4 linked regions of the Homo sapiens genome follow. The protein of the gene in region 4 purifies or fractionates together with the protein of the main gene of each other region. This does not show direct contact. Each region holds a gene or a part of one and is shown on either strand. Other genes may lie near its edges.

The links.
Region 1: the proteins of USP25 (region 4) and KCTD10 purify together in Homo sapiens (affinity purification with mass spectrometry; 5 studies listed by BioGRID and IntAct, with this or other methods). This does not show direct contact.
Region 2: the proteins of USP25 (region 4) and MYO6 purify together in Homo sapiens (affinity purification with mass spectrometry; 2 studies listed by BioGRID and IntAct, with this or other methods). This does not show direct contact.
Region 3: the proteins of USP25 (region 4) and BTBD9 purify together in Homo sapiens (affinity purification with mass spectrometry; 4 studies listed by BioGRID and IntAct, with this or other methods). This does not show direct contact.

The regions. Positions count from the first base shown.
Region 1 is NC_000012.12:109,452,922-109,460,574, reverse strand, and holds part of KCTD10 (BTB/POZ domain-containing adapter for CUL3-mediated RhoA degradation protein 3), read left to right. Parts: intron 1-2,493; coding exon of another isoform or gene 2,494-2,496; coding exon 2,497-2,583; intron 2,584-2,892; coding exon 2,893-2,945; intron 2,946-4,261; coding exon 4,262-4,457; intron 4,458-6,920; coding exon of another isoform or gene 6,921-7,088; exon of another isoform or gene 7,089-7,653. UniProt on the Homo sapiens protein: Substrate-specific adapter of a BCR (BTB-CUL3-RBX1) E3 ubiquitin-protein ligase complex. The BCR(BACURD3) E3 ubiquitin ligase complex mediates the ubiquitination of target proteins, leading to their degradation by the proteasome.
Region 2 is NC_000006.12:75,885,239-75,892,238, reverse strand, and holds part of MYO6 (unconventional myosin-VI), read right to left. Parts: intron 6,236-7,000; coding exon 6,145-6,235; intron 5,396-6,144; coding exon 5,245-5,395; intron 2,183-5,244; coding exon 1,974-2,182; intron 1,012-1,973; coding exon 933-1,011; intron 1-932. UniProt on the Homo sapiens protein: Myosins are actin-based motor molecules with ATPase activity. Unconventional myosins serve in intracellular movements. Myosin 6 is a reverse-direction motor protein that moves towards the minus-end of actin filaments.
Region 3 is NC_000006.12:38,629,591-38,637,243, reverse strand, and holds part of BTBD9 (BTB/POZ domain-containing protein 9), read left to right. Parts: intron 1-7,653.
Region 4 is NC_000021.9:15,830,789-15,838,441, forward strand, and holds part of USP25 (ubiquitin carboxyl-terminal hydrolase 25), read left to right. Parts: intron 1-612; coding exon 613-841; intron 842-2,538; coding exon of another isoform or gene 2,539-2,552; exon of another isoform or gene 2,553-2,559; coding exon 2,560-2,760; intron 2,761-7,653. UniProt on the Homo sapiens protein: Deubiquitinating enzyme that hydrolyzes ubiquitin moieties conjugated to substrates and thus, functions in various biological processes including inflammation and immune response.

The sequences.
Region 1 (7,653 bases), on a different chromosome or scaffold from region 4:
TTTTCCCTCTCTGCAAAATGGGGGCAGTTTCTGTCTGACTGAGATGTTGTGAGAGTTAATGAGTTTGCCCTGGAGCCCGATTCCTTCGGTTGGAGTGACCCCTGAGAGGCCTCCCTGGAACAGCAGGCCACCTAACTACTGTGTCACTCCTTGCAGCCCCATGCTGTTGGATCTTCTCATGTGTACATCTCAACCCTTCAGCAGAGAACCCCGCGGTGTGAAACTTGGTCGGTGTTCGGGACCAATCTTAGGGCTTACTCTAGTCCCACAAGTCATTGTTGGGAGCTCAGCATAATCTCTACAGACAGACACCCCTCACTCCTTAGCTAGACAGAGCAGGACCACTGGAGTCAGGTCTGGTGACAGTAAAATCCCACAAAAACAAAATGCTTCTAGACATGGCCAACACCCCTTTATTTCAAACAAAGTTGCAACGTGGCAGAGCATCAGAAGCATCCCTTTGGGTTTTCGTAGGAATCTGGTCTGTGTGCATGAGGCCCTTGTTTGGGCCTCCCCCACACCACATGTCTGTGTCTGGCCCCGCACCGGACCAGTACCCATAATGCTGCACACCACCTCTACTCTGAGAGTCTGAACTCACTGCAGACCTAACTGAATGTTGCAGCATTTACTTTTTTATTATTACTACACTGTTGAAAGTGATGCACATGCATCCTTCAAGAAGTCAAATAGTGCTGCAAGGTTAACATCAAAACACCACCATACCCCTCCTACTCTCCTTCACCCTTGCAGTAACCTCTGTGAATTCTTTCAGCAGTTTTTTCTGTTCACATTTATGTTTCCACATAATTCGCCTGTGCTGCTCTTTATTGAATTCCCAGTTTTTGACATTATCTACTGGCATGACTATAGAAACTAGAATTTAGCTCACGCACTGCCCCTACCTCTACCCCCACCAAGCTTAGGCATACTTTTCCTTCTCCCATTCTCCCAGTACAGTTCATCACAGTTTTGGTTAAATTCAGAGTTTACGTCATGACGTGTAAATACGGCTGACAGTTAAGCCACAGAGTGTACAGTGATTATTTTCTTTCTTCTATAACTTTAAGTTTGCCAGAGTTAGGGATTGCCTCATTGTTTTGTTCACTTGGTTTTCTAAATATATGTTCCTACTTCAGCCCCACGTTCTCAGCGGTCTCATAGTGGTGTGTTCAGACACATCAGAGGTTCTGTTTCATCTTTGTCTTGGAGACATGCCCCTGGGTCTCGTTTCTGTTAGTCTAAGGTTAGACCTCCAGGACTGACCTCCTAATTCTTTCCTCTTAGTGTCTCTGGCTTTATCCTTTTGTTCTACTTTCTCAGAAGTTTTATTTTTCACCTTTTCAACCCTTCTATCAAAATTTTCATTTCTGCTTCGTCTTTCTAACTTCAGGAGCCTTTTCTTGCTGTCCGAATGCCCTGCTTTCCACAGCGTGCTCATCTTGTTTCCTAGGAGGCCGTATCTGCTCTCAACTGTCTGATGATTCTGTTTGTTTTCTTTCTTCTCCCTTCATTATCTGACTCCTCCTCTTTTCCTGTCTTTGTTTTGGTTTTGTTCTCATGTTAAAGAGGCTTTTCACATGTAATCTGATGATGCTTGGCTGTCTGTTGAAGGAATGAGAGACTCTGAAAGCTGTTTGTGCATGGAAGGTCCTTGTTGTCCACTGGGCTGCATTGTGGGTGATAAGGCAGACTTTTTCAGCGGGACCCCCAACTGTCAGAATCTGTAAGCCATTTTGGGGGAAGCAGGTGGTGTTCCTGAAGAGGAATCCTCTACTCTCCTCCTGCCTGACGGGTCTAGGCCTGGCCGGCTGCCTTTGGGGATCTGGAAGGGGAAGGAGCTGGGGTTGCTCATCACTTAGTGTGATGTTCACTTGTCCCCCCGTTTTCAGAATCGCAGCTCAGCCCTGTCCTCTACCGTGCAAACCACTGCAGGAAGATGGCCCTTTCTTCTGCCTGCATGGGGACGGAGATGGATTTGGGGATCTTTCCAGTGCTTCCGCCCACTGGTTTCAGCTTTCCCCCTCTCCTTGGTTAACGCTCACCTGTGACCTTTCTACCCTCAAATTTTTGACTTTTTTTACTGGTCTGCTGACCTCACTTCTCCCATTCTTTTTCCCCTTATGGGTTTATGCTTTTTTTTTTAATTCCTCTGCAGTCATGGTAGTGGGGTTTTAGGAGCTTTTGATTAAAACACGTTTCTGCTGCCACGTCAAGGGTTTATTTTTGAGTGGCTTCCTGGGCTGTGGAAAATGTGTCATCATTGTTAGTACTTACTCAGCATCCTGGCCTATCATGGTCATAGCCAAAGAGCAGACTTACTGGGAAATTCAACTCCCTGTCTTCCCCCATCTAGTTCACTGGTGGTGAGAATCCTTCTCTCTTCCCAGCCATGACTGCCCCATCTCCCCTCGCCAGAGCCTGTCCAGCCGGTCAACTTTAAAAATGCAGTGCTAGGCAGGCCTCCTAGGCTGAAAGCATGTTTTGTTCCAGCAGAACAAAGATACTTATGAGCCTTTCTGCAAGGTCCCTGTGATCACCTCATCCAAGGAAGAACAAAAACTTATAGCGACTTCAAATAAGGTATGTTGGAGGCACCCTTGTGGAATTTCTTTTGCTACCAGAAATGATGGAGGTTCTTCTGAATAACTTTTGAAATAAAAACATGTATAATTGCCTGAGTGAGGCCTGATAATGGGTTCACAGTGGGAAGCTACAGGTCATCTTTTGTGCCCCTGCTATTGGGTCATGTGGTCCCCCTCTCCAGCCAGCAAGCTATGCTTGTCTGCCTCTTCTGATGCAGGGCAGGGCCCCAGCCCTATGGGAAGCTAGTAGTTCATTGCATCTGCCTGCCAAGTAACTCTCTTCTTCTTCTTTTAAAACAACCCACAGCCAGCCGTGAAGTTGCTCTACAACAGAAGTAACAACAAATACTCATATACCAGGTAAGGCGTCAGCCGGGAAAGACAGCTCCATTTACTAGGAAAACCTCCACTCACACCAGCCAGGCCCAGCTCTTCTTCGTACCTTCAGATGAGGATGACCCCTCTGTACCTCTCTGCCTGGATAGATAAGTAGACAGATGGATACAGGGGTATAACTCTGAGCTATAATTCACACATATCATAAAAGTCATCTTTCTAGAGTGTACAGTTATTATTATATTCACAATATGTGGTTTTTATATATTCACAAGTTGTGAGGCCATAACGACTATCTAATTTTAGAACTTTTTCACTGCCTGAAAAGAAACCCTCTATTCGTTAGCAGTCACTCCCCATTTTCCCTCAACCATTGCTTCCCCAACCCCACAGCCCTAGGTAACCACTAATCTGTTTTCTGTCTTGATGAATTTGCCTGTTCTGGACATTTTTATGTGAATGGAATTGCATAATATATGGCCTTTTGTGACCAGATTCCTTCATTCAGCATAATGAGATTACCTAAGAGGTTTTCAAGGTTTATCCATGTTGTAGCATGAATCAATACTTCATTCCTTTTTATGGCAGAATAATATTCCACAGTGTAGACCACATTTTCTTTACCCATTCATCAGTTGATGGACATTTGGGTTGTTTGCACTTTTTGGCTATTGTGTGTAATGCTGTTATGAACATTCATGCAAAGTCTCTATGTGGACTTACGTTTTCATTTCTCTGGGAACAGAATTGCTGGGTCATGTGGTAATTCTATGTTTAATCATTCGAGGACCTGCCAAACTGTTTTCTAAAGTGGCTGCACCATTTTACATTCCCACCAGCAATATATGCAGGTTTCTAGAATGCCATTTGGCCCTTGAAAACATGTGGCTCTAACTCAGGAACTTGAGGGATGCAGGGAGGATTTAATCAGGTTACTCAAGATCTTTAAAAAGACCTAGGATATAGAGTCTCCCTTGGGCAGTGCCATTCTGCTCCTCTTGGGGCTCGGTGAGGTGCTCTCCTCCACCTGGTGCCTGTGCCCAGAGGCTGTCACTCAAGCACAATGGTTAGGAGCACTCAGGCTTAGGGGCCAGGGCTGTCTTTTGGGGGGCGTGTCTGCCATTTATTAGGTTCAGCCTTGAGCAATTACCTAATTTCTCTGATCCTCACTTTCCTTCTTGAGTGATGGAGATTGGAGTGCCTTTGTCATGGGATTATTGTGAGGTTGAAATGAGGTAGTGGAGAAAGTGGGCTCAGTAGGGCCCTGCGTGTAGAAGGGCCCAGCAAATGATGGCAGTTTTTACCAGCTTGTGGTCACCGTATCAAATGCTCTTTTGCAGCAATTCTGACGACAATATGTTGAAAAACATTGAACTGTTTGATAAGCTGTCTCTGCGCTTTAACGGAAGGGTCCTGTTCATAAAGGATGTTATTGGGGATGAAATCTGCTGCTGGTCCTTTTATGGTCAGGGCCGGAAGATTGCTGAAGTCTGTTGTACCTCCATCGTCTATGCCACTGAGAAGAAACAGACCAAGGTAAGAGCCTCGAGAGGACAGTTTGGAGTGGCTGTTCTGAAACACACACCTATAGAACTTCCTTTCACTTGAGCCCAATACAGAGGGAAATGCTTTTAAAATGCTTTGCTTGCCTTGTGATTGCTCATCCTTAAAATATTTATCTTTTAGGCCCTGCAAGGAGCCAAATGTAGGGTTCATCTGGCATTCCTTTAGCTCCCTACCTTGCTGGCTTCCTTCCAAGCATGCTTGACTCCCTGACTGGGCTGGACTCTGGGGATGTGTTTTTATATCATCCTCTCCAAACCAGTAGGCTTGACCTATCCTTTGACTTCTCCCACCATGCCGTTCCACAAAGCTGGATTGCTCTGCATAGTGCTGCTAGAGATCTGGCCCCCCCTTAATTGAATTTGCCTGCCCTTTTGGGGCTCTGCAATTGGGTTTTCTGTCTTTTTAAACTTTTAATTCACATTATACACTCTGTCATTTCTTTAACGTGTCTAAGGGAATTCTGGCTATCCAGTGACATGCAGCAGGTCTGCTGTGGGCCGACGGTCATGCCTCTTGTCACCCTTGCACAGGAGTCTTAAGAGCCTGAGCCTGTAGGTCACTTACCCAGGTTACTATTGTCCCTGCAGCTTTTGGGGCCACAGTTCTGCATGATTCTGTAGCTGACCTCGAACAAAAAGCAAATGAGAAGAAATCATCACATCACAAAGTAGAAACCAGAGTCTTTTTTTTTTTTAACTTATTATTGAAAATTGAAGCCATACACAGAATTATAGTGTGGTGATTTCCCCTGTGCCATCACGCCACGTCAAGGGCCATCAGCTTGGGCACTCTCACTCAGTCTGTATCTACTCCTCCTCCCCAGCACTCACAGGATGAATTTGACAACATATTTTATTCCTAAGCATTCAAAATCTATCCTAAAAGAATAGATATTGTTCTTAAGGTAGCCAAGAAGTGCTAAACACTGAGGTTCTTTTTGCTTTCAAAGATCCCGGGGGCAGGGGGTGAACCAGAATCATCTGCCTCTCTCTCCACATTGGCAAGACATCATGCCCCTTTTCTCCTGTGAACTGTTTTTTTTTTTTCAGGGCTGTGAATTCTTCCTGTAATTAGACCCCCATTCTGTCATGGTTTGATTTTTTAAAAATATACCTGGGCTGCCTCTGCCCTTGGGTAGTAAGAGGAGAGTCACCATATTGATTAAGCTTTAAAAGATTAAGACTTCTCATTTTTAGAGCTTAATAAGGAACAAGGGGATTTAGAGACCACATGGTCTGATCCCAACTGTTTCTAGATTAGCAGACAGGTTCAGGAGTGGCATGTTCTTGTGTTTGTAAAGCTAGTTAGTGGCAGAGCCAGGATGGGAAGCCAAGGGCCTCTTTCTTTTCTCTTTGTTTTGAGAGAGAGTGTTGCTCTGTCACCCAGGCTTGAGTACAGTGACACAATCATAGCTCAATGCAGCCTTGAACTCCTGGGCTCAAGTGATCCTCCTGCCTCAGCCTCCTGAGTAGCTGGGTCCACAGGTGCATGCTACTACACCTGGCTCATTTTATTTATTTTTGTAGGGACTGGCTTTCACTATGTTGCCCAGGCTGGTCTCGACCTCCTGGCCTCAAGTGGTCCTTCTACCTTGGCCTCCCAAAGTGTTGGGATTACAGGCATGAGCCACTGCACCCAGCCCATATCACTCTCCTCTCCTGTCTCATCTCCACTCTGTTATTGAGCCCTGCTGGTAAGTTGTGTTTTTGTTTGAGGTTGTTGGTTATTGTATTTGTCAGTTCTCAAGTGCTCATTTGGTTTTTCTGTCTCCTTGCTGAGACTCCCTATGTTTCCATTTGCTCTAAGAGCATTGGCCCTTACTTACTGGAACAGGTTAATAATAGCTGCTGCCAGGTCTTTGTCAGGTAATTCCAAAACCTTGTGTCACCTTGGCGCTAGCATCTGTGAGTTATTTCCCACAGGAGTTGAGAATTTCTTGGTTCTTGTGTATTGAGAAATTTTGATTGTATCCTAAACATTTTGAATATTGTTAAAGGACTCCAGGCCTTGTTTAAATCCTAGGGAGAACATTGATGTTTTTGTTTTAGCAGGCAATTGACCCAGTTGGGCTCAGGCTGCAAGCTCTAACCAGCCTTCTGTAGTTTGTAGTTGCGGTGACAGTTTGATTTTCAAAGCCTTCAAATCTGTCCTAGCTGTGTGCCATGCTGTGGCCCGTCTGTCCTGGGCAGTATCTCTTGCAGCATTCAGTTCTTTCAGTCTGCGTATGCAGTTTAGGGGTAGATCTTGCAGCTGGGTGTGGGTCTAGGAGTTCATATACAACTTCACAGGCTGCTTTCTCAAGCTCCTCTTCTCCGCAGTTCTCTAAGCTTCCCTGGAGTCCCCTTCTCTGATCGGCCAGCCAGAAAGCTGGGGGTTTGGTTATTCCCCCTTTGCCACCCACTTTCTGTAACCATGCCTGTATTTTGGGCCCAGGAGCATGAAGATAGAAAAAGCAACCAGATTCTCCCAATCCTGCTGAGACCACAGCTCTTCTCATCAGAAAAGAAGGTTCCTTCCCTCAGAGTTTTGACTCCTGCAGTCTCTGGTTGCTGCCACAGGAATGCTCAGGTCTGGGTGCAAGAAAATAAAGAAAAGGACTGAGCATGGTGGCTCACACCTGTAATCCCGCACTTTGGGAGGCCAAAGCAGAAGGATTGCTTGAGTCCAGGAGTTTAAGACCAGCCTGGGCAACATAGCAACACCCCTGTCTCTACCAAAAATTTTTTAAAAAATAGCTGGGCATGGTGGTGTGTGCCTGTAGTCTAAACTACTTGGGAGGCTGAGGTGGGAGAATCATTTAAGCCCAGTAGTTCAAGACCAGCCTGGGCAACATAGCAACACACTCATCTCTACAAAAAGTTAGTTGGGCATGGTGATGCATGCCTATAGTCTCAACTACTTGGGGAGGCTGAGGTGGGAGAATCATTTGAGCCTAGGCGTTCAAGGCTGCAGTGAGCTATGATTGTGCCACTGCACTCCAGCCTGGGTGACAGAGCAACACTCCCTCTCAAAACAAAAAAGAGAAAAGAAAGAGGCCCTTGGACTCCCGTCCTGGCTCTGCCCCTAACCAGCTTCACAAACACAAGAACACGCCACTCCTGAACCTGGTCTGTGAATCAAGAAACAGTTGGGATCAGACCATGTGGTCTCTAAATCCCCTTGCTCC
Region 2 (7,000 bases), on a different chromosome or scaffold from region 4:
GGCATCCCATTAACACTAACACCTAGAGAGCAGATGTCAGGAATTTAAAGTTTTGGTTATGCTTAGGATATATTATGAAAGCCATGACAAACAGAAATTCAAATACATGAGCAATTTATTCTCAACATGGGACTTTTTAAAAACTAGGGGTGGAGAGAGACTCTTAATCCTAATTTATTAATTCCAGTATCTACAAAGTTATATGATATTTTAAAACTTAACATTTTAAGTGAATTTTCATTTGACTTTCCCCTAGGTATAAAAACAATTATTAATATTTATTGATCTACACAGTGTTCACAATGCTTTAACATGTATTAACTGTCAAATGCTTGCAACTATTATTTATCCACATTCTACAGAGAGACAACTGTGACCCATAGTTCCTCACTATAATGTGTACAATGTCACAATTTCTGTCAGTGACTGATCTTGGATTTGAACCCACTTCCCTAGCTCCAAAGTCCATTCCCATAACCACTTCAAAAACTGGCCTTTGGTCTCTAGGATAAACTAGTGACAGCTTATCTAGCAAATCAAGATCTCATTTTCACTTCTTTCATAGGTTCCATTTTATTTTATTTATTTTTTATTTTTTATTTTTTTTGAGATGGAGTCTCGCTCTGTTGCCCAGGCTGGAGTGCAGTGGTGTCATCTTGGCTCACTGCAAGCTCTGCCTCCTGGGTTCACATCATTCTCCTGCCTCAACCTCCCAATTAGCTGGGGCTACAGGTGCCCACCACCATGTCCGGCTAATTTGTTTTCGTATAAGTAGAGATGGGGTTTCACCATGTTAGCCAGGATGGTCTTGATCTCCTGACCTCGTGATCCGCCCGCCTCGGCCTCCCAAAGAGCTGGGATTACAGGCATGAGCCACCACACCCAGCCTGTAGGTTCCATTTTAATAGAAATTCAACCCAGTAAGTACATACTTGAATGCGTTTTTCATCATCTTCCCTTTTCTTTCTCTCTTCTTCTTCTTGTTTTCTCTTTGCTTCCATCTCAAGTTTCCTAATAAAAAATAGAAAACTCTTCAAAAATTTAACAGAAAATAAAGAATCCTTCAGAAGGCAATTTAACTATTATTTAATAATAAACAAAGGTAACAGATTGGGAATGCAAATTAACCTCCTGGCCACATACATCAACTTATTTTGAATAAAATAAAATTTAACTCTATTGACAATAATTCTTAAATAAAACAAATATAATTATATTCTATAACTTTTAACATCTCTAGATGAATGTGGTTACAAAGCCTGGCTGTAAGGTCCTGATTAAAGGTGCTTCCCTCTAGTCCCTCTCCAAGTCAACAACTCATCTGTTCTCTCTACCCTATCATGGCAATCTTTCAAAATGTTATCAGTTTTAAAACTGCAGAAAAGTAGAAGTGTCATTTATCTAGCTTAGAAAACAATAAACAAATCATAGTTTTAAAAAGAAGAAAATCCTCAGGTGTAAGAGGCTAACAAATTCAGATTATAGTTAAAATTATTTTATGGTATCACTATTATAAAATGACCTTATTCTCTCAATTTTCAAACTTATTACAAAATTAGTTCATTAAAATAAGAACACAGTTTTAAGAATTGTCAACCGAGCACGGTGGCTCACGCCTGTAATCCAAGCGCTTTGGGAGGCCGAGGCGGGTGGATCCCCTGTGGTCAGGAGTTTGAGACCAGCCTGGCCAACATAGTGAAACCCCGTCTCCACTACAAATACAAAAATTAGCCAGGCGTGGTGGTGCGCACCTGTAATCCCAGCTACTCAGGAGGCTGAGGCAGGAAAATCGATTGAACCCGAGAGGCAGAGTGCAGTAAGCCAAGATCGCGCCACTGCACTCCAGCCTGGGCAACAGAGCAAGACCCTGTCACAAAAACAAAACAAAACAAATAATTGTCATTAACCACTGTCAATACCAAGAATTCACTATTTCTTTAAGTCTCTTATTCAAAATAATATAAATGCCTCACATCCGCCTTTCCTCCTCTTCCTTTCTTCGACGTTTTTCGTCTTCTTCACGTCTTTTTCTTTCCTTTTCCATTTCTTCTTGAATACGCCTCAGCCTTTCTGCTTCCTCTTCCTGCTGTTTTTTTTTCTGTAATGCACTGAGGAGTTCCTCTGAGCTTTTAACCAGTGCATCATATTCTTTCTGGATTTGTTCCTGCGTCATCATAGTGGACTTTAAAAAATAAAATAAATAGGTACGTAAAAGCTTATTTCTTCTGTTGCACAACAATGTGAATATACTTAACAATACTGAATTATAAACTGAAAAATGGCTAAGATAAATTTTAATGTTTTTATTGTTTTTTACAATTTAAAATAAAAAACTACTCCAATATGCAAATACAGCAAAAACTAGGTAAGATGGTAAGCAATACGTCCGTTATCTTTACTATACTGTTTGTACATTAAATACTATTCAAAAAATGTTTTATGTTATCTCTGCACACAAGTATTACACATCAATTAGACAGGTAATCTGTGGATAAGGTAATATACTGCAGTTAAAAATTATTTCTAGGCCGGGTGCAGTGGCTCACACCTATAATCCCAGCCCTTTGGGAGGCCAAGGTGGACAGATCACCTGAGGTCAGGAGTTCGAGACCAGCCTGGCCAACATAGTGAAACCCTGTCTCTTATAAAAATAAAATACAAAAATTAGCTGGGCATGGTGGTACACACCTGTAGTCCCAGCTACTCGGGAGGCTGAGGCAGGAGAATTGCTTGAACCCGGGAGGCGGAGGTTACAGTGAACCGAGATCATGCCACTGCACTCCAGACTGGGCAACAGAGCAAGCCTCTTATCTCAAAAAGAATTATTTCTTAAGTAATGATCAGCTAATTTAGCAATAGTTTACTACTATTTTAGAATAATGTTCAAATAGTACCTAGAGAATATTTTAAAAATTACAAAATATATCCAAAATTATTGGATTTCTAAAATTAGCCTTCAAAAAATGTGGGTGGGTTAATTTTAATTTATAATGATACCACATAAACAAAGATGGCCCTTGACAGATTTATAAAATCAGCTGAGTCTATTTATAGCATTTTCATTTTCCTCCAGATCTTTTTTTTCCTTTCTACCTCCAAGATTGCCATTGTTTACATAAAATATCTGCAGAAAATATAAAACGCTCACTTTAAGATATTCATTATATCCCACATACTTGCACTGACCTATGAAACTGAGAAAAAGCATTAAAACTCTAAAATATAATGAGAAGATATGAAATGTAATTAATGAAATATGAAATATAATTAACAAGCATATAGAAAAGTCTTCAACTCCACTAGTAATCAAATAAATAAAAATCAAAACAAAATAAGGGATCCCATTTTTTTCCTACAAAATTGGAGAGGAAATTGCTATTTTCACAAAATTAATTACATTATCGTATCTATGAAGATAATGTATTAACATGGACAAGTATATAACAATGGTAGAGATAGAAATTGAAATGTATATTATGATAAGAACTGTAAAAATGTATGCATAAAAGAGAATGTAAGGTAAAGTAAAAACAAGTAAAATTATACTGTAAAAATAACAGTAACTAACTGAATTTGTTAATGTGGAGGTATTAAGAGGTTTTTGGTGGTTTCTCCAATTTTTTTTTTTTTTTAGCCAGGGGTCTCACTGTCACCCAGGCTGGAGTGCAGTGGTGCAATCTCTGTTCACTGCAACCTCCATCTCCTAGGCTCAAGCAATCCTCTAACCTCAGCTTCCTTGGGACCTCAGGCTCATACCACCATGCCCAAATAATTTTTTGTATTTTTGGTGGAGACAGGTTTTGGCCATGTTGATCAGGTTGGTCTCTAACTCCTGAGCTCAGGTGATCCCTGCGCCTGGGCCTCCCAAAGTGCTGGGATTACAGGTGTGAGCCATCACATCTGGCCTCCAAATTTTTTATAGTATTATATTACTTTTATCATTTATTTATTTATTTTTAGACGTAGTCTCACTCTGTCGCTGAGGCAGGAGTGCAGTGGCACAATCTTGGCTCACTGCAACCTCTGCCTCCTGGGTTCAAGCAATTCTCCTGCCTCAAGTAGCTGGAACTACAGGCGCGTGCGATCACACCTGGCTAACTTTGGTATTTTCAGTAGAGACGGCGATTCACTATGTTGGCTGGGCTGGTCTCAACCTCCTGACCTCAAATAATCCGCCCACCTCGGCCTCCCAAAGTGCTGGGATTACAGGCAGGAGCCACCATGCCCCACCACTTTTATTTTTATTTATTTATTTTTTTTGAGACGGAGTCTTGCTCTGTCACCCAGGCTGGAGTGCAGTGGCGCGATCTCGGCTCACTGCAAGCTCCGCCCCCCCGGTTCACTCCATTCTCCTGCCTCAGCCTCCCAAGTAGCTGGGGCTACAGGTGCCCCCCATCACGCCTGGCTAATTTTTTTTTTTTGTATTTTTAGTAGAGACAAGGTTTCACCATGTTAGCCAGGATGGTCTCAATCTCCTGACCTTGTGATCCGCCTGCCTCGGCCTCCCAAAGTGCTGGGATTACAGGCGTGACCCACCGTGCCCGGCCATTTTCTTTTTGCTCCAACTTTAGTTTTCTTTTTTCATTTTTTTTTTTTTTTGAGATGGAGTCTCACTCTGTCACCAGGCTGGAGTGCAGTGGCACAATCTTGGCTCACTGCAATCTCCGCCTCCCAGGTTCAAGCGATTCTCCTGCCTCAGCCTCCCAAGCAGCTGGAATTACAGGTGCACGCCACCACACCCAGCTAGTTTTGTATTTTTAGTAGAGACAGGGTTTCACCATGTTGGCCATGATGGTCTCGATCTCCTGACCTCATGATCCGTCCGCCTCAGCATCCCAAAGTGCTGGGATTACAGGCATGAGCCACCATGTATGGCCTCCAACTTTTATTTTAATTTCAGGGATGCACGTGCAGGATGTGCAGGTTTGTTACACAGGTAAACGTGTGCCATGGTGGGTTTGATGCACAGATCATCCCATCACCTAGGTATTAAGTTGCGAGGGATATCTTTCTTAGCAACAGAAGAAATGGCATAAAAATTGTCTTCTTTAACTTTTTGCTATGAAATTTTTCAAACATAAAGAGTAGAGGTAATAATGATGAGCATGTACTTGCCATCATTGAGTCTCAACACATTTTGTAATTTTGAAAAACTAAGGACGTTTTCTATACAATTTCAATACCAATAACAAAATATATTAAATTACATAAAAAGTCAAAGTCATTCGGGTTGAAATTACATACCTTAATTTTGGCCATCAAAGTATCAATAGAAATTTCCAGATTCTTGATCTGTTTATTCATCTCGGGTTTTCCATCTTTCAACACACTGACTACCTCATTAAATTTATCAAGTCGTTTTTTCAGTGTGCCCACCTTAACCAGACCATCAATGCTGTAAAAATAATACTTCATTAGAGCTTAATTTCATCCTTTAGTACTTTTGGCAGATTTTTCATTTATAAAATGCTAAACAGGGTATTTCACTTCTGTTTTCAATATTATCTACTATTCTCTTTTTCAGATCTCTTGTTGAAGGCTAAAAAAAATCAAATATGAGTGTGAATGACACTGATGCCTGTCAATGGGATTAAAGCCTTCTACAACTTTGAGAATTCAAATCACAGAGGAAATTAATCTAGTCTCTTTGAAAAGGTGTGATGGATCAATAGAGATATTCAGACTTCCAATTTTTAAAAGTGTAAATTAAAAATGAAAGATTCAAATAAGAAATACACTAATTTATAATGGGACAATGTAATTCCTACAGATAATCTTGAAAATTATGTAAACATATTAGTGAGATGTTTTTTAAAAAATGTCACCTTGACATTATCAAGAAACTCAAATAACTAAAATAATCAGAATAAAAGAGCTTCTCTCAACTACTTACTTCTTGTTTTATAGTCTTTACACATTTTTGTATGCCACTTCAAATCCTTTTATAGAATGAGGCAAGTAATAAGGTAATAAATGAATTAACTAACTTCAAATAAATATTACAAATAAAAGACTAATACATCATTTTACAAAGAACATGAGAAAACCTGAGTATCCAAACTGCTTTTTATTATGACTTTATTGTCATTTTGTATTACAGTAACTAGGTTTTGTAGAGTTCTTTTTAGGAACTATTCATCTTACCGAGGTTTGTGTCTCCTCTTGCAAAGCCACATTCGAATAGTTTTTTGCATTTTAATGCAGGCTTCAGCTCGATATTTTATTTTGTTTTTCACTATGTGTAAGAGTAAAATAAAATGATAGAAAATTATTCAGTTTAAATCTAACATATATTAAAAAAACTCATTTTCACAAAGTAATGCTCAAGAAACATGAAATCTTGACGACCATATTATTATATATCAGACATCAAAAACAAAGTTTTAACACCTTTTTTGTTTGTTTTTGTTTTGACAGTCTCAACCCAGGCTGGAGTGCAATGGCATGATCTTGGCTCATTGCAACCTCCACCTCCCAGGTTCAAGAGATTCTCGGCCGGGCGCGGTGGCTCACGCCTGTAATCCCAGCACTTCGGGAGGCCAAGGCGGGCGGATCGTAGGGTCGGGAGATTGAGACCATCCTGGCTAACACGGTGAAACCCCGTCTCTACTAAAAATACAAAAAATTAGCCAGGCATGGTGGCGGGCGCCTGTAATCCCAGCTATGGGAGGCTGAGGCAGGAGAATGGCGTGAACCCGGGAGGCGGAGCTTGCGGTGAGCTGAGATCGTGCCACTGCACTCCGGCCTGGGTGACACAGCAAGACTCCATCTCAAAAAAAAAAAAAAGAGATTCTCATGCCTCAGCCTCCTGAGTAGGTGAGGTGGGACTACAGGCACACACCATGCTGGGCTAATTTGTGTATTTTTATTCGAGCCAGGGTTTTGCCATGTCGGCCAGGCTGGTCTTGAATTCCTGACCTCAAGTGATCCTCCCACCTCAGCCTCCCAAAGTGCTAGGATTACAGGCGTGAGCCACCACGCCCAGCCAGTTTTAACATTT
Region 3 (7,653 bases), on a different chromosome or scaffold from region 4:
AGTATATGCTCAGCATACTAAGTGTTCATCAGAAGAGATAAACCACTAACCATTATGTGCTGTGACAAATTAATCACTTTTGGAATGAATAATGTGCTGGGGGAGTAGAGTGCTTTGGCTGGAGAAAAAACTGATAGGGAACATGTTGAGAAGAAGGGGATGGAGCTTAGCTCTGAGGGTTAAATAAAATTTCGCCACATGTAGAGGTGGAAGAGAGCATTCCAGGGGCCAGCATAAGCAAAGTTGCTGAATATTAAAATTAAATAGCGCTTTTGGAAATATCTTGAGTTGTTTCTTGTGGGCAAGAGAGGGGAGAGGGCTGAACTCATCTCAAGAACCCATTCCTGAGATAATGAACCCATTCCTGCTATAATGGCATTCATCCATTCATGAGGGCCTAATCACTTCTTATTGCATGGGGGAAGTGATGAGGCAGGAAGCTGTTTTTGGAGCCAAATTATGAGGGGGTCTTCCACTTCATCCTAAAAAGTCTAGACTCCTCCCATCCATTGGCAGTGGAGAGCCATAGAAGGTAGAATAATCAGAAAGTTGACAGTTCGTGTGCAGATTGCATTAGAGTAGAGAGGCAGGGAGACTAGAGTGTAGGTGAGAAATGTTGGACAATGGGAATGGATAGATTTTGGAGACATTTTTAGATGTTAAAATCTCTACATTTATGACCAGCTAGAGGTAAGGGAGAGTGAGAAGTCAAAGATAATATGTCTAGTTTGAGCAACTGTTTGCTTATGATGACATTAAGTTAGAAATCACAGGAAGAGGAACAGGTTTGAAGTGGAGAGAAGAAATAATGGCAGTGTTAATTCTGAGGTTTCTGTGGGGAGTTTAAAAAGAGAGATCCACTAAGTAACTGGAAATGCTACTTCAGAGTTTATGAGATGGTTAGGGACAATTGTAATATAGATGTCCGCTGAGGCTGTGGGAGTAGCAACCTTCTAGGAGGCATGTTAGTATAGTAGTTAACTTAGTGGACTTTGGAGTTAGGAAGATGGCAGGTCAAATCTCTGTTATGCTGTTTATTGGTTGGCTGACCTTTGGCAAGTTATTTAACTTCTCTAAGCCTAGGCTTCTTATCTGAATTAAAGAATTGTGGAGATTATACATGTGCACAGTGATTAACACAAAGGTACTATGTGCACAGTGATTAACACAATGCCTGTCTTATAGATGCTTAATATAATAAATGGCAGCTGTTGCTGTTATTGTTAGTAGTAGTTATAGATGTAGAGATAGTAGGAGAGGCCCCAATGCCAGAAAAATGGAGAGTGAGAACTGGAAAAGATGGTGAATGGAACTTTTGGACGTTTAAATCAGTATTTAAACTTGGATCAGTTCTTGTCTTTGTTTTGTGCTGCTATTTCATATTTTATGTTTCATAATGGCAGCACAAAACAAACTAAGACAAGAACTGATCTAAGTTTAATTTATAAAGAACAGTCTGGTTAATTTATAAAGAACAGAAATTTATTTCCTGATAGTTCTGGAGGCTAGGAAGTCCCAGATCAATGTGCCAGTATCTGGTGAGGGCCTTCTTGCTGTGTCATAACATGGCAGAAGGCATCACATGGGTGAGAGAGAGAGGGAAGGGGGCTGAACTGATCATGTCAACCTATTCCCACTCTACTGGCATTAATTCATTCATGAGAAAAGAGTCTTCATGGCCTAATCACTAAAGATCCCACCACTCACTGCTGTTGCATTGGGGAATCATGTCTCCTCTAACACATGGAGGACACATGCAAACCATAGTAGTTCTAAAATTTGAAAATGCATTGGGTAGACCTGGAGGTGGCCAGGTGTGGTGGCTCATGCCTGTAACTCCAGCACTTTGGGAGGCTGAGGTGGGTGGATCACTTGAGGTCAGGAGTTTGAGACTAGCCTGGCCAACATGGTGAAACCCTATCTCTACTAAAAATATAAAAATTAGCTGGGTGGGGTGGTGCACACCTGTAATCCCAGCTACTCAGGAGGTTAAGGCAAGAGAATCGCTTGAACCCAGGAGGTGGACATTGCAGTGAGCCGAGATTAGGCCACTGCACTCCGGCCTAGGTGACAGAGCGAGACTCCATCTCAAAAAAGAAAAAAAAAAAGAAATAGCTGGAGGCTTTGGTAAAGCACAGATTTCTGGGTCCCACCCCCATAGTTTCTGATTAAGTAGGTGTGGACTGGGGCTTGAAAAATTGCATTTTTGAACAAGTTCCCAGGTGATGCTGATGGTGCTGTTAGAGGATAGATGAAAGAAAAGGAACCAGCACTAACAAAGTGGTTGAAGTGTATGGAGAACCAGGAGATAGTTTAGAGAAGAATAAGAATTTTAACAGCCTCCAGACTCTCTAGGTCTACCAGTCTGATTTCCAATTTCGTAGAGCTTATCTCATTCTTATTTTTGTTTTCTCCAGAATCTATTATAATGCCTGATACATAGCAATAACCTTTGAAGCTGCTTAATACTGTCCTGGTGCATGATGGCATGTACCTCACACACAGATTTCATTTATCCTCTTTTATCTCTGATGAGTCATGGGGAGGATATGATTTCTAATTTTACACACACACAAAATAACTACAGAAAATTTCTTTCATATATCTGGTGTGTAGCTATGTGCATTTGACTTTGTGTTAGATGCCCTCTCCCCCCCCTTTTTTTTTAAAAAAAAGGAACAATCCAGTTTGCAAAATAATTTTTAATAATATGTGCCAGGATTCCAGTCTGTGTCCTGTATTAGGCACATTGAGTCTTAAAAGGGAAGCAAATAATATATTCCCTGTTCCTGGGAAGTTTACAGATAAGATGGGTGAAATGAGCAAAACCCACAGGAAAGAAACAGGAAGAGGTATAATCACAGAAACATGGATGTAGAGAATCTGAATCTAAGGACATATTCTTTGCTTGCCAATATTCTTTGGGTTTTACATGTTTCATATACTGAAGACTTTTGGCATATAGCACACATGTTAGTCCTAGTGAGAGGAAGTTATAAGGGAGTTCCACTATATAAGGAAATAAAACAGTAGCTGTGCAAAATTATAAACACATTTGTAAAGGGAGTGAAATTGGAGTTAAATTGGAGCTTCATGACTGACAGCTTAGCTACTCACTATTCTGCCTAGGTGCTTGTTCTCTCTCATTTATCTCCCAGCTAACATTCATTAAGCATTTATAGTGTGCCAGAAATCGTGTGAAGTGCTGGGCATAGAGAAAACAATAATTGCCTTGTGCACCTAATTCTGGTTTTACTTGGGGAAAGGAATGTGCACACATGTATGCATATTGTCAGGGTGAAGGAGCCTGACTTTTATAATCTTAAGATTATATTGAAGGAAGAGACATTGAGGACTTGAAGTTAAATTCATTCAGCCTTATGTATTCAAGGGGCCATGACGAGTATAGGGATGGGGCCATGACGCGTATAGAGATGTATATTTTTTTTTTAGCAATCAAATTTGTAATTTGATAGAGGAGAAAGAACATATTTGGAGTAATAAAAAGAATACGATAAGTACTGTATAAATATTGATTACAGACTAGGTACTCTGGCTTCTTAAGCAGCTAAGTGTTCAGTTTTAACAGCAACTCATAAGCTATTGTAATGTTTCAGAAATTATAACATGTCATAAGTCCACATTAACCTCCTGGGCTGCCTTTGCATCTGAATATGAGACACAAAAATATTCTGGCAGTCTGTGTCCCTATTTTCTTGATTTGGGAAGTATATGCATAATGCATATAAGCAAAAGAGTAATTAAAAACAAGGTGCTATTTATCTAATGGCTACATTATGCAAGGCCCTTTCTATATACTGTTTCATCCTTGTAATGACAACCTTGTCAATTTGACATTATCTCCATTTTACTAATAAGGTAACTGAGTTCCAGAATGGGAACTGTTTGTCTGTAGCTTGTGGCCAGTGAGAAGTGGGACTGGGCTCCAGTACAGACCCAGGTGTGGACTCTGCAGCCTGTGTTCTTTTTACTTCATGCCAATTCCTTATGTCACCATGGGTCTTCAGCATGTTAATATCTTGATGTAGAAATGCAGTCTCATTTCTACTGTTTTAGGAAAAGTTACTGGAGGAAGTTAGAATTTTAGTAACTGCCTAAATGTTTGAAGACAATTTGATAATATAGTTAGGGATGGAAGGGAATGGGGGCTGGATAATTAATGGCCCCAGTGCTGATTCTCCTATGAAGACGTGCTGTATTTGACCCCAGTTATTTTTTAGTTGACTCACAGGAGATCTTACATGAATATTCAGATTTCCCACTTTTTATTTATTTTTATTTTTTTCAAATAGAGACAGGGTCTGGCTCTCTTGCCCAGACTAGAGTATAGTGGTGTGATCCTAGCTCACTATAACCTCGACCTCCTGGGCTCAAGCAATTCTCCCTTCTCAGGCTTCTGAGTAGCTGGGATGACAGGTGCATGCCACCATGCCTGGCTAATTTATTTTTGTTTCTATGTAGACAGGGTCTCACTGTTTGCCTAGGCTGTTCTTGAACTCCTGGGCTCAAGGGATCCTCCAACTTTGGCCTCCCAGAGTACTGGGATTACAGGTGTGAGTCACTGCACCCAGCCCCACTTCTTTATGTATAGGTGCCAAGTTTTCTAGAGGAGGAACTGTACTTTTTCAAGTACAGTTCAAGTTTACATTTTTCAAGTTTACATTTTAGTAAAGTCAACTCTTTTAAAAAATCCCTTAAAACTTCACCCCAAACAATGTTTACCTGAGATTTCCCAGCTAATCTCCCTTCTCTGCACATTACTTATTTCCTCCACTTAGGTGTTTATTTTTAAACCTATTTACAAAATTAATACATTCTATTTATGGTTCAGTGTAGTTATTCTGACTTGCAAGGTTTTCATTCCTTGCAGTTTGACTAAGTCACTCTTTGGTCCTATTTTATACATTCCTGGAAATATAGACTGTAACTATCTTTGTAAATGATAGTTAATTTCAGTTAATTTTACAAGAAATATTTCTATAAATTTATAATTCTGCAAATGGAATAACTGTTAAATCAAATTCTATGTTATCTATTGCTGTGTAACAAATTATCCCAAAATTTAGCTGCTTAAGACAACAAACTTTTTTTTTTGAGATGGAGTTTTGCTCTTGTTGCCCAGGCTGGAGTGCAGTGGCACGATCTCGGCTCACAGCAACCTCCGCCCCCTGGGTTCAAGCCATTCTCCTGCCTCAGCCTCTGGAGTAGCTGGGATTACAGGCATGCGCCACCACGCCAGGCTAATTTTGTATTTTTAGTAGAGACGGGGTTTCTCCATGTAGGTCAGGCTGGTCTCAAACTCCAGACCTCAGATGATCTGCCCGCCTTAGCCTCCCAAAGTGCTGGGATTACAGGCGTGAGCCACCGTGCCCAGCCAACAACAAACATTTTTTAATCTTATGATTTCTGTGGGTCAGGAATTCAGAACCAGCGTAGCTGGGTAGTTCTGGCTGAGTCACTGATGAGTTGCAATCAAGCTTTTGACCATTGCTATAGCAGTCATCTGAAGGCTTGACTGGGGCTGGGGCTGGGGCTGGAGGATCTGCTTCCGAGATGGTACACTCACATGGCTGTTGACAGGAGGCCTCAGTTCCTTGCTGGCTGTTGGTAGGGGACCTCAGAAATTTCATAGGGTTGCATGAGTATCCTTATAACATGTCAGCTAGCTTCATCCAGAGCAAGTGATGCAAGAGAGAGCAAGGAGGAAACCATGTGCCTTTTATGTCCTGTTTTGAATATAACACTGTTACTCCTTCTATATTTGATTTGTTATAACGTGGCACTAAGTCTAGCCCATACTCAGGGAGGAAGGCAGTTAGGTTCCACCTTTTTTGAGGGGAGAGTCAAATAATTTGTGGGCATATTTCCAAACAACCATCAATCCTTTTTCCCGTGAAGCCATTTCTTCAGTTGATGTTGATTGTCTCTGTTTTAGCACATGCAATAATTTTTCTGACTTGTATATTCATGGTATTTTCTGGAAATGCTCTGAAGAAAAGGTAGTGGTTTTTAAATTTTAAGGAAAGTTTTCACAAATTACAGATTTGTTGTGGATTCCTTGAAGTTTTATATCCATCACATTAGCTTTAGTACTAATGCAGCCAGAATGTTTTCATTTTTATCCTATTCTATTCTATACATTTATTCTTATACAATTGTATTCATATTTAATGGTTTTAAATTAATCTAAAATAGAACCAAACATTTCTAGGTAAGGTAATTCACTTTCCAAACTTTTAGAAGAAAAATGCTTCCTCAACCACTGTCTGAAGGCACGTGTTTCAATTTCCATATGGTACAGTGACATTGGGCTGCATGGCTTAGATGAGTCTGCTAATTTATAATCCAGTCCTTTGGGTACTTTACTAACTTTTATCCTCAAGTAAGGTCCTAAGTAGATCCATTTTATTTCAAGTCTCATTCTTTAGAAGGTGTATGTAGGACATAATTGGCTTAGGCAACCTTTTCAGAACATATTGCAGTTAGGTTTATATTTTGGCACTTCATGTCAGATATTAACTTTCACTATCCTGACCCCTAACAAGTATAAATTACCTGCTTAACTCTTTTATTCTAGTTTTTAATTTTAATCTAATTTTAGACATACAGGAAAATTGCTGGAATAGTACAAAGAATTCTTTTATAACCTTCACCACATCTCCCAAATGTTAACATTTTACCACATTTGTTTTATCCTTCTCTCTCTCCTTTTGCCCCACTGAACTGTTGAAGAGAAAGTTGCAGATATAATACCCAATCCTTCAATGTGCATTTCCTAAAAACAAGGATATTCTCTTATTAACTGTTTTACAATCATTAAATACTATCGTTGTAGCTAACCTATAGGCTTTATTCATATTTCATCAATTATCCCAATTGACTTATCAATGAATACCCTTTAGAGCAACAAAAACAATAAAAATCCAACACACAAGAACAAAGTGAAACAAAACAAAAAACCAGCCATGTGGTGCATTCAGTTTTTCTTTTTTTCTTTTGGTCTCCTTTTTTTTTTTTTTTTTGAGACGGAATTTCACTCTTGTTGCCCAGGAGTGCGGTGGCACCATCTCGGCTCACTGCAACCTCTGTCTTCCGGGAGCAATTCTCCTGCCTCAGCCTCCCAAGTAGCTGGGATTACAGGCATGCACCACCATGCCTGGCTAATTTTGTATTTTTAGTAGAGACGGGGTTTTCACCATGTTGGCCAGGCTGGTCTCAAACTCTTGACCTCAGGTGATCCGCCCACCTTGGCCTCCCAAAGTGTTGGTATTACAGGCATGAGCCACCACGCCTGGCCTGGTCTCCTTTAATCTAGAATAGTGCCTCAATCTTGTCTTTATAACACTGACATTATATAAGGGTTTAGGCCAGTTTTGTTTTTATTTATTTATTTCTTTTTTGAGATGGAGTTTCATTCTTATTGCCCAGGCTGGAGTGCAATGGTGTGATTTCAGCTCACTGTAACCTCCACCTCCTGGGTTCAAGCGATTCTCCTGCCTCAGCCTCCCTAGTAGCTGGGATTACAGGCACATGCCATCACACCCAGCTAATTTTTGTATTTTTAGTAGAGACAGGGTTTCACCACATTGGCCAGGCTGGTCTAGAACTCTTGACCTCGTGATCCTCCTGCCT
Region 4 (7,653 bases):
ATAACAAATTTATAACAAAATTCATGACAAGTTTTCCCCATTCAGTTGTATTTTCACACCGTATGTGTTGTGTACCCTTACTATTTTACAGTAAAATCTACCAAAGTTTTTCAAAAGGCTATAGCATCTTTAAAAAGTCTTATGGGAGAAAATCTATGGTTGTTAAAGGATATTAAGATTTGGGAAGAAACTTAAGGACTCCATTACATTTTAACTTCTGGTGTATATCATATAATCTATTTTGTTAACCGTCAATTTAGAATTCTGAAGATGTAGACACATTTGCTATATGTAAAACTGCCCACTATAAGCTTTTTATTCAAATAAACAATTAGGCCAATGAGTATGTACACAATAAATACATTTTTAGTTTTTCAAAAATCATCTTTTTAATCTATCAACTTTGCATATCTTTAGCTTATTCAGATTCCGTCTTTTTAAAGTTTTATAGTTTAGTTTTTTTCAAACTTTTAAGCCCAGCCAGTTCTCTCTCATTTAAAAAAAAAAATGCTCTTATGGTTTTCTCCAAACAGGTTGTTTGTGGGTTTCATGGAATGTGGTATATAGTAAACTACATAATTGCAGTTTAACTCTTCTTTTTTTCACATTTAGGTTCCTTATCGATTACATGCCGTTTTAGTTCACGAAGGCCAAGCTAATGCTGGGCACTACTGGGCATATATTTTTGATCATCGTGAAAGCAGATGGATGAAGTACAATGATATTGCTGTGACAAAATCATCATGGGAAGAGCTAGTGAGGGACTCTTTTGGTGGTTATAGAAATGCCAGTGCATACTGTTTAATGTACATAAATGATAAGGCACAGTTCCTAATACAAGGTAAGAATATATAGGGTGGTGTGTATTTTTAAATAGTCATAAAAGTGGCTCTGGTATGTGGTGTGATTAGTTAAGTGTAATTCACTCAGACGATGAAGGATGTGGTTAGGAAATGCTACTGGGTTTTGACAAGACTGAATTGAAAAGTAATGTCGTCAGGGCTAAGAATTCGTATATATTTTGTATTCCAAGTCAACTATTAAAGGTAAATATGACCTTTTTCGTCCTTGCTAAAAATGCTTTAGTGACTGTTCCACAGATTGACTCACATTTAATATTTAATTCCTTAGCCTAACATATATGGCCTCTGTTCTTGGCCTCTGATTATCTCCCCACCTTCATTGATCACCAGTGTTCCTTTTGAATTTATATCCTTACTGAACTTCTTGCTGTATCTGCTCATATCAAACCATTTCACACATTTATGTTTGCATGTTCGTATATGTTTTATTTTTTGCTAGTAATTCTTTTGCCTAATTCTTGTTTATCTGTCAAGATTCAATTCAGGTGTCATTTCCCCTGCAAACTATTTCTTGATCTGCCAAAAAGTATCTCTCCTTATGCTGTCCTGGCATCTGTCTACTGGGCATTTACTGTTGTGTATTGGAACTGTGTGATGACTTGTCTTGCACATTTCTCTCTTATCTGCTCAGAGCCAGAGATCATGTCATACTATGTCTGAATCTTTTTAATGCTGATATTCTGATATATGCTTTGCATATAGAAAATAATAAAGGTTTATTGAAACTGATAAAAATAATCTTTTTATATTTAGTCATTCAGAATCAGCTAGGCAGTCCACTTCTGACTAAAAAAATGAAGTTATTTTTCTGTGTGTGTAGTAGAAGTTCAGTAATTCTTCTGAATACTCTATTGTTTTTAAGATCTTGCTATATTAATTTTCATAATTGCATATTTAAGTCTACTTAATTTCTTCATATGACAAACAATTTTCATTTTATTTTGAGCTAATAAGGTTAACATGATTATGAGTTGTTTACATTTTGTGAAAAGTTTTACTTTTTAAGTGATCAAACATCTGGTATTTTCCAATAGTGGCAGAAGTAGTATTACATCACTGTTAGAGTAGCAAAGAAAAAAAAAAATGGCCGGGCGCGGTGGCTTATGCCTGTAATCCCAGCACTTTGGGAGGCCAAGGTGGGCAGATCATGAGGTCAGGAGATCGAGACCATCCTGGCTAACACAGTGAAACCCCATTCTACTAAAAATACAAAAAAATTAGCCGGGCTTGGTGGTGGGCACCTGTAGTCTCAGCTACCCGGGAGGCTGAGGCGGGAGAATCGTCTGAACCCGGAAGGCGGAGGTTGCAGTGAGCCGAGATTGTGTCACTGCACTCCAGCCTGAGTGACAGCATGACACTCTGTCTCAAAAAAACAAACAACAACAGCAACAAAAAACTTGGCTTTGGCTTTGTATTTTCTGTCACTTCTACTCTTAAGATAAAAAAAAATCTGAGACCATTACCTATGATGGATTATCAAATATTTTCATCATTGTTTTTCTGAGCATTTGTTTGAGTTTTAAAAAGTTTTGTAGATAATAATTATTTGCTAAGCAATAGTAATTCTTAAGTAATATGATTGGCTGAGTGGTAATAATTCATAGTTTAAATTCTATTTGAAATGCAGTCTATTTTGAGCTTTGCATTTTCCCTTTAATTCTTAATTTTATACTAGTTTTTGAAATATGATTTGCAGAGGAGTTTAATAAAGAAACTGGGCAGCCCCTTGTTGGTATAGAAACATTACCACCGGATTTGAGAGATTTTGTTGAGGAAGACAACCAACGATTTGAAAAAGAACTAGAAGAATGGGATGCACAACTTGCCCAGAAAGCTTTGCAGGAAAAGCTTTTAGCGTCTCAGAAATTGAGAGAGTCAGAGACTTCTGTGACAACAGGTTTGTCCATTTTTATTAAGTTGTGTTTGATTATCAATATTATTTTTATAATAAGATATGCTCATTATTAAAAAGTTTTAGCTATCTTAAAGTGTGAGGAAATCAGTAGAAATCATTTCAAATTCCATCACTCAGATTATCACAGTTAACAATTTAGTTTACCTTTTTGCCAGACACCACTGTATATATTTATATGTTTTTCAAGATAAATGAGATAATTCTGTTGACTTTCCCTCTACCTACTCTGCCTGTGTTGGGTGGGCTTGAATTTTCTTGGCAAGTAGCAGAGAAAGCTGTGAAATCAGCAAGAAACCCAAACCAATTCACTAAAGCTATCAAGAGTATCAATTCAATAAAGCTATCAAGAGTATCAATTCAATAAAGCTATCAAGAGTAGTAATTTTAAATTTGGCCAAAATAATACTACCGGTATATTCATATATACTTTGTGCAATAGTAAAATACTACCATTAATAACTATTTGATGTTTTTCGGAATTCTTAAGATTAAGAGAAAATTGACCAAAACTATTTAGTATATCACAGGTAAAAAGTAAGTGTATAGACCTGTAAACCAAAGATATAAATGCATAAACATATAAATATTTAAAAACATTATTCTGAAATGAACTATTAGCTGATGAAATCAATAAGTCAAAGTAAACACTGTATAGGAATTAAGAAAATAGTTTCTAGTAAAATTGAAAATATATTGTCTTTTTATTTTCTTAAAAGATTACTCTTCACTGAGTTGCAAATATGTTTTAGGGCAACATGTTTTCTGGTATAGAAAATGCTATTTCTCAGAGAAGCTATAAATTAAGCGCATATATTTTCCTCAAACTCATTTGTCTCTTTTTATAACTGCTAGTGGATATTATTGAATAACTTTTTTTTTTTGCAAGATCTGCATGTTTTGTGTTTTAAGGAAGTAGTTCCAGCTTTTGTTTGTTTAATTTCATCTTTCGCAGACAGAGGTTTCCTTGCAGCATTACCTGGTTGGGCTTCAGCATTATCATTTGAACTTTAGAAGGAATTATTACTTCAATAGAAGATTGTTTTACAGTGCTACAATGTAGTATTGTGACTGTCGCAGGCATGCACAAATCTGTCCAGATACTTAACTTATTTTCATGTAGATCAAATAATTGTCGTTGATTTTGATCCTGAGAGGCAGATAATTCAGCATTTTTTAAAAAGATAATGGTATCACAGCAACATTTGGATACTACAGTGCTATGGAGAATACCACCATTATAGTGGCTGGTGAACTCTACCATTATGTAGGGCTGCACTTTTCCCCCACGTGTACAAGGCTACCGCGTAGAGCAGGTGAAGCTATGTGGGTCCACAACAATGTAGTTTTTAGTAGATGTCAAGAGGTATCTAAGCTCAAATCACAGTGTAGTAACTATATTATAGTTCCTTTCATTTTTAAAACATTTCTGTCCCTTTGTGATTTCATGCTTTGCATTCTGTACATATTCTTTCCAAATCACTCCTCAGAACCTGCCCCAAGATGGAGCTACTGTGTTATTGTTCCCTTAACATTTACTTATTCCATTCACATGTGACTATTCTTGTTATTAGTGGGAGGAAGGGGCTGCATAGTGTACTATAAGCAGTTGTGGTACCTAAGCTCCCAGACACAGGTGAATCCTCCATTCATTGGTTAAGCTCCAGTTTTATTCTTGGCTCACCTATATTTTGTGATACCAAAATATTAAGTTCTATATATCCTCCTCCTCTTCATCCTGTCTGTTTCTCATCTCTCCAAATTTTCAGAGTTAACATATTTTATTTCTGCTTAGTCAAACGAATACATATTTCCAACTAATATTCCTATCTATTAAGGACTAGCCTTGCCCCATCCTCATTTTACATTTGTCATCTTTTTTCTTTCTCTGTGAAAAGACCATGTGTGCATAACTGCATCCATTTTCATGATCAATACATCTGACCATACACTTTACATGGTGTTTTGTAATTTTTAAAAAATGCAGTACTAGGTATTGGACATATATTTTCATGTCTGTTTTTACCATGCAAAATAATCTTAGAATGTTGATATATTTCTGGGAGGAACCAGAATAAAAGATGAAGAGATGGAAATGGTCAATTCCTATTCCTAGATAACTTTTATAGTTACCTTTCAGCGTGGGTTATTTAGAAAGCAGTGGTAATACTACTTCTGTAGGAAACATTGTATCCTCCATAGACTTGACGGAAATATGCACTTGGTTTGAATTAGTAGAAGTAGAACATGCCAAGTCCATAAATTTACAGAGTGAGATTGTTGTTTAAAAGATTGGTTTCTATTACTGTTATCTTTGAGATTATATTAAGAAATTTGTTCTCTGTTGCAGGATAGTTTCACATATCATAATTGAATAAGACTAATGTTTCATTAGAACCATTTATTCCCTATTATTAATAGGGAAATTTTATTTTAATGTCCATGCCATCCTCTTCTGATTCTTCTCATGGTTTTCAAAGTAAGTAATTTAATTTGGTATAATACTTCCAGGATCTCAAAGCAAATCTGTATTTTAATCTCTCAGGTGTTCACTAGTATTACCAGTGACTAGTGGAAATAATAAAAGGAAATCTTGTTCATAAAATCCAACAGAATGATTTTTTTCCTCCCTGCAAAATCTTCTCGTTAAAGCTGAAACATAAGACCTCATAAAATTCAATTTCTACTGAGTGATATTCCAATTAAGAGTACTAATTCATATTATATTAATCAAATTAGTATTTGTTCCTCTTCTGCTAAAATGTGATCGAGAAATTCATGCGTATCAGTTCACCAGCACCATTCGTTCCCTACTGAGATAATAAATGATGGGAAAGTATTTTTTGGTTCATTTCATGCTGCTTCCCTAGATCTGCTTACTGCAAAGGCAAACTTACCTGAATACTTTTGTTGAGATTTTCAGCCAGCCATTCTTTGCTGTCAGTGTGGGGATCAGAATGAGTAGGGGAGCAAACTTACCTGAATACTGTTGTTGAGATTTTCAGCCAGCCATTCTTTGCTGTCAGTGTGGGGATCAGAATGAGTAGGGGAGCAAACTTACCTGAATACTGTTGTTGAGATTTTCAGCCAGCCATTCTTTGCTGTCAGTGTGGGGATCAGAATGAGTAGGGGAGCAAACTTACCTGAATACTGTTGTTGAGATTTTCAGCCAGCCATTCTTTGCTGTCAGTGTGTGGATCAGAGTGAGTAGGGGAGCAAACTTACCTGAATACTGTTGTTGAGATTTTCAGCCAGCCATCCTTTGCTGTCAGTGTGTGGATCAGAATGAGTAGGGGAGCAAACTTACCTGAATACTGTTGTTGAGATTTTCAGCCAGCCATCCTTTGCTGTCAGTGTAGGGAACAGAGTGAGTAGGGGAGCAAACTTACCTGAATACTGTTGTTGAGATTTTCAGCCAGCCATCCTTTGCTGTCAGTGTGTGGATCAGAGTGAGTAGGGGAGCAAACTTACCTGAATACTGTTGTTGAGATTTTCAGCCAGCCATCCTTTGCTGTCAGTGTGTGGATCAGAGTGAGTAGGGGAGCAAACTTACCTGCATACTGTTGTTGAGATTTTCAGCCAGCCATCCTTTGCTGTCAGTGTGTGGATCAGAGTGAGTAGGGGAGCAAACTTACCTGAATACTGTTGTTGAGATTTTCAGCCAGCCATCCTTTGCTGTCAGTGTGTGGATCAGAGTGAGTAGGGGAGCAAACTTACCTGAATACTGTTGTTGAGATTTTCAGCCAGCCATCCTTTGCTGTCAGTGTGTGGATCAGAGTGAGTAGGGGAGCAAACTTACCTGAATACTGTTGTTGAGATTTTCAGCCAGCCATCCTTTGCTGTCAGTGTGGGGATCAGAGTGAGTAGGGTTTTTTTTTCTGAGTGTGAACAGCACACCCTACCTAAGGCCACTTAAGAGACACTGGAGTCAGAATCTCTGGAGAAAGGATCTGATACAGTGCTATCTTAAAGAGATCTTCAGATAATTCTGAGGTTAAGCAGCATGGCTCTAGGCTGTATTTATAAAACAGAAATTATGCTGGAGAGAAGAGCGTTGTCCGAGTTACTATTTTACTTATATTACTCTTGTCTTATCCAAGAAGTATCTGAAGTCCTTACAATATAGCACACCCAGATTTCTTTAAAAAATAAGGAAACACTAGTGAAGATTGGAATGAAGTGTATTGCGTAAGGTTTTATAAATTTCTCTAGAGGAAGCAGGCAGAGTTGGCTCTGGAACTTCTCTACACTGTCTACAAGTTAAAAATAAGCTGATGTTCCAGGAGAGTACGGTTGGATCCTGAGAGTAAGACCTGGTAGAATAAACAGTATCGTCAGTGTTCTCAGATTCCTTGAAAGCAGGAACTAGGTGATATTCTTTTTTTTTTTTCTGAGACAGTTTCACTTTGTTGCCCAGGCTGAAGTGCAGTGGCATGATCTTAGCTCACTGCCTGCCGGGTTCAAGCAATTCTTGTGCCTCAGCCTCCTGAGTAGCTGAGACTACAGGCATATACCACCACACTGGGCTGATTTTTTTGTATTTTAGTAGAGACAAGGCTTCACCATGTTGATCAGTCTTGAACTCAAATTCCTGAGCTCAGGCAGTCCTCCCACCTCAGCCTCCCAAAGTGCTAGGATTACAGGCATGAAGCCACCATGCCAGGCCTGGTGGTGTTCTTATTTATATCTCCAGCATCTAGTATAATAAACGACATATGATAGATGTTCCTTGAAAGTTTTCTGTTAATAAGTTCATTCCCTATGGAGATTTCCAATAATGAATTTCTTAGGGGTGATCCTCAGTGTAGGAGAACATAAAATTTTAAAGTAGAAACAAAATAGTCACACAATAAGGAGGCAGGCCAAATACATGGGGTG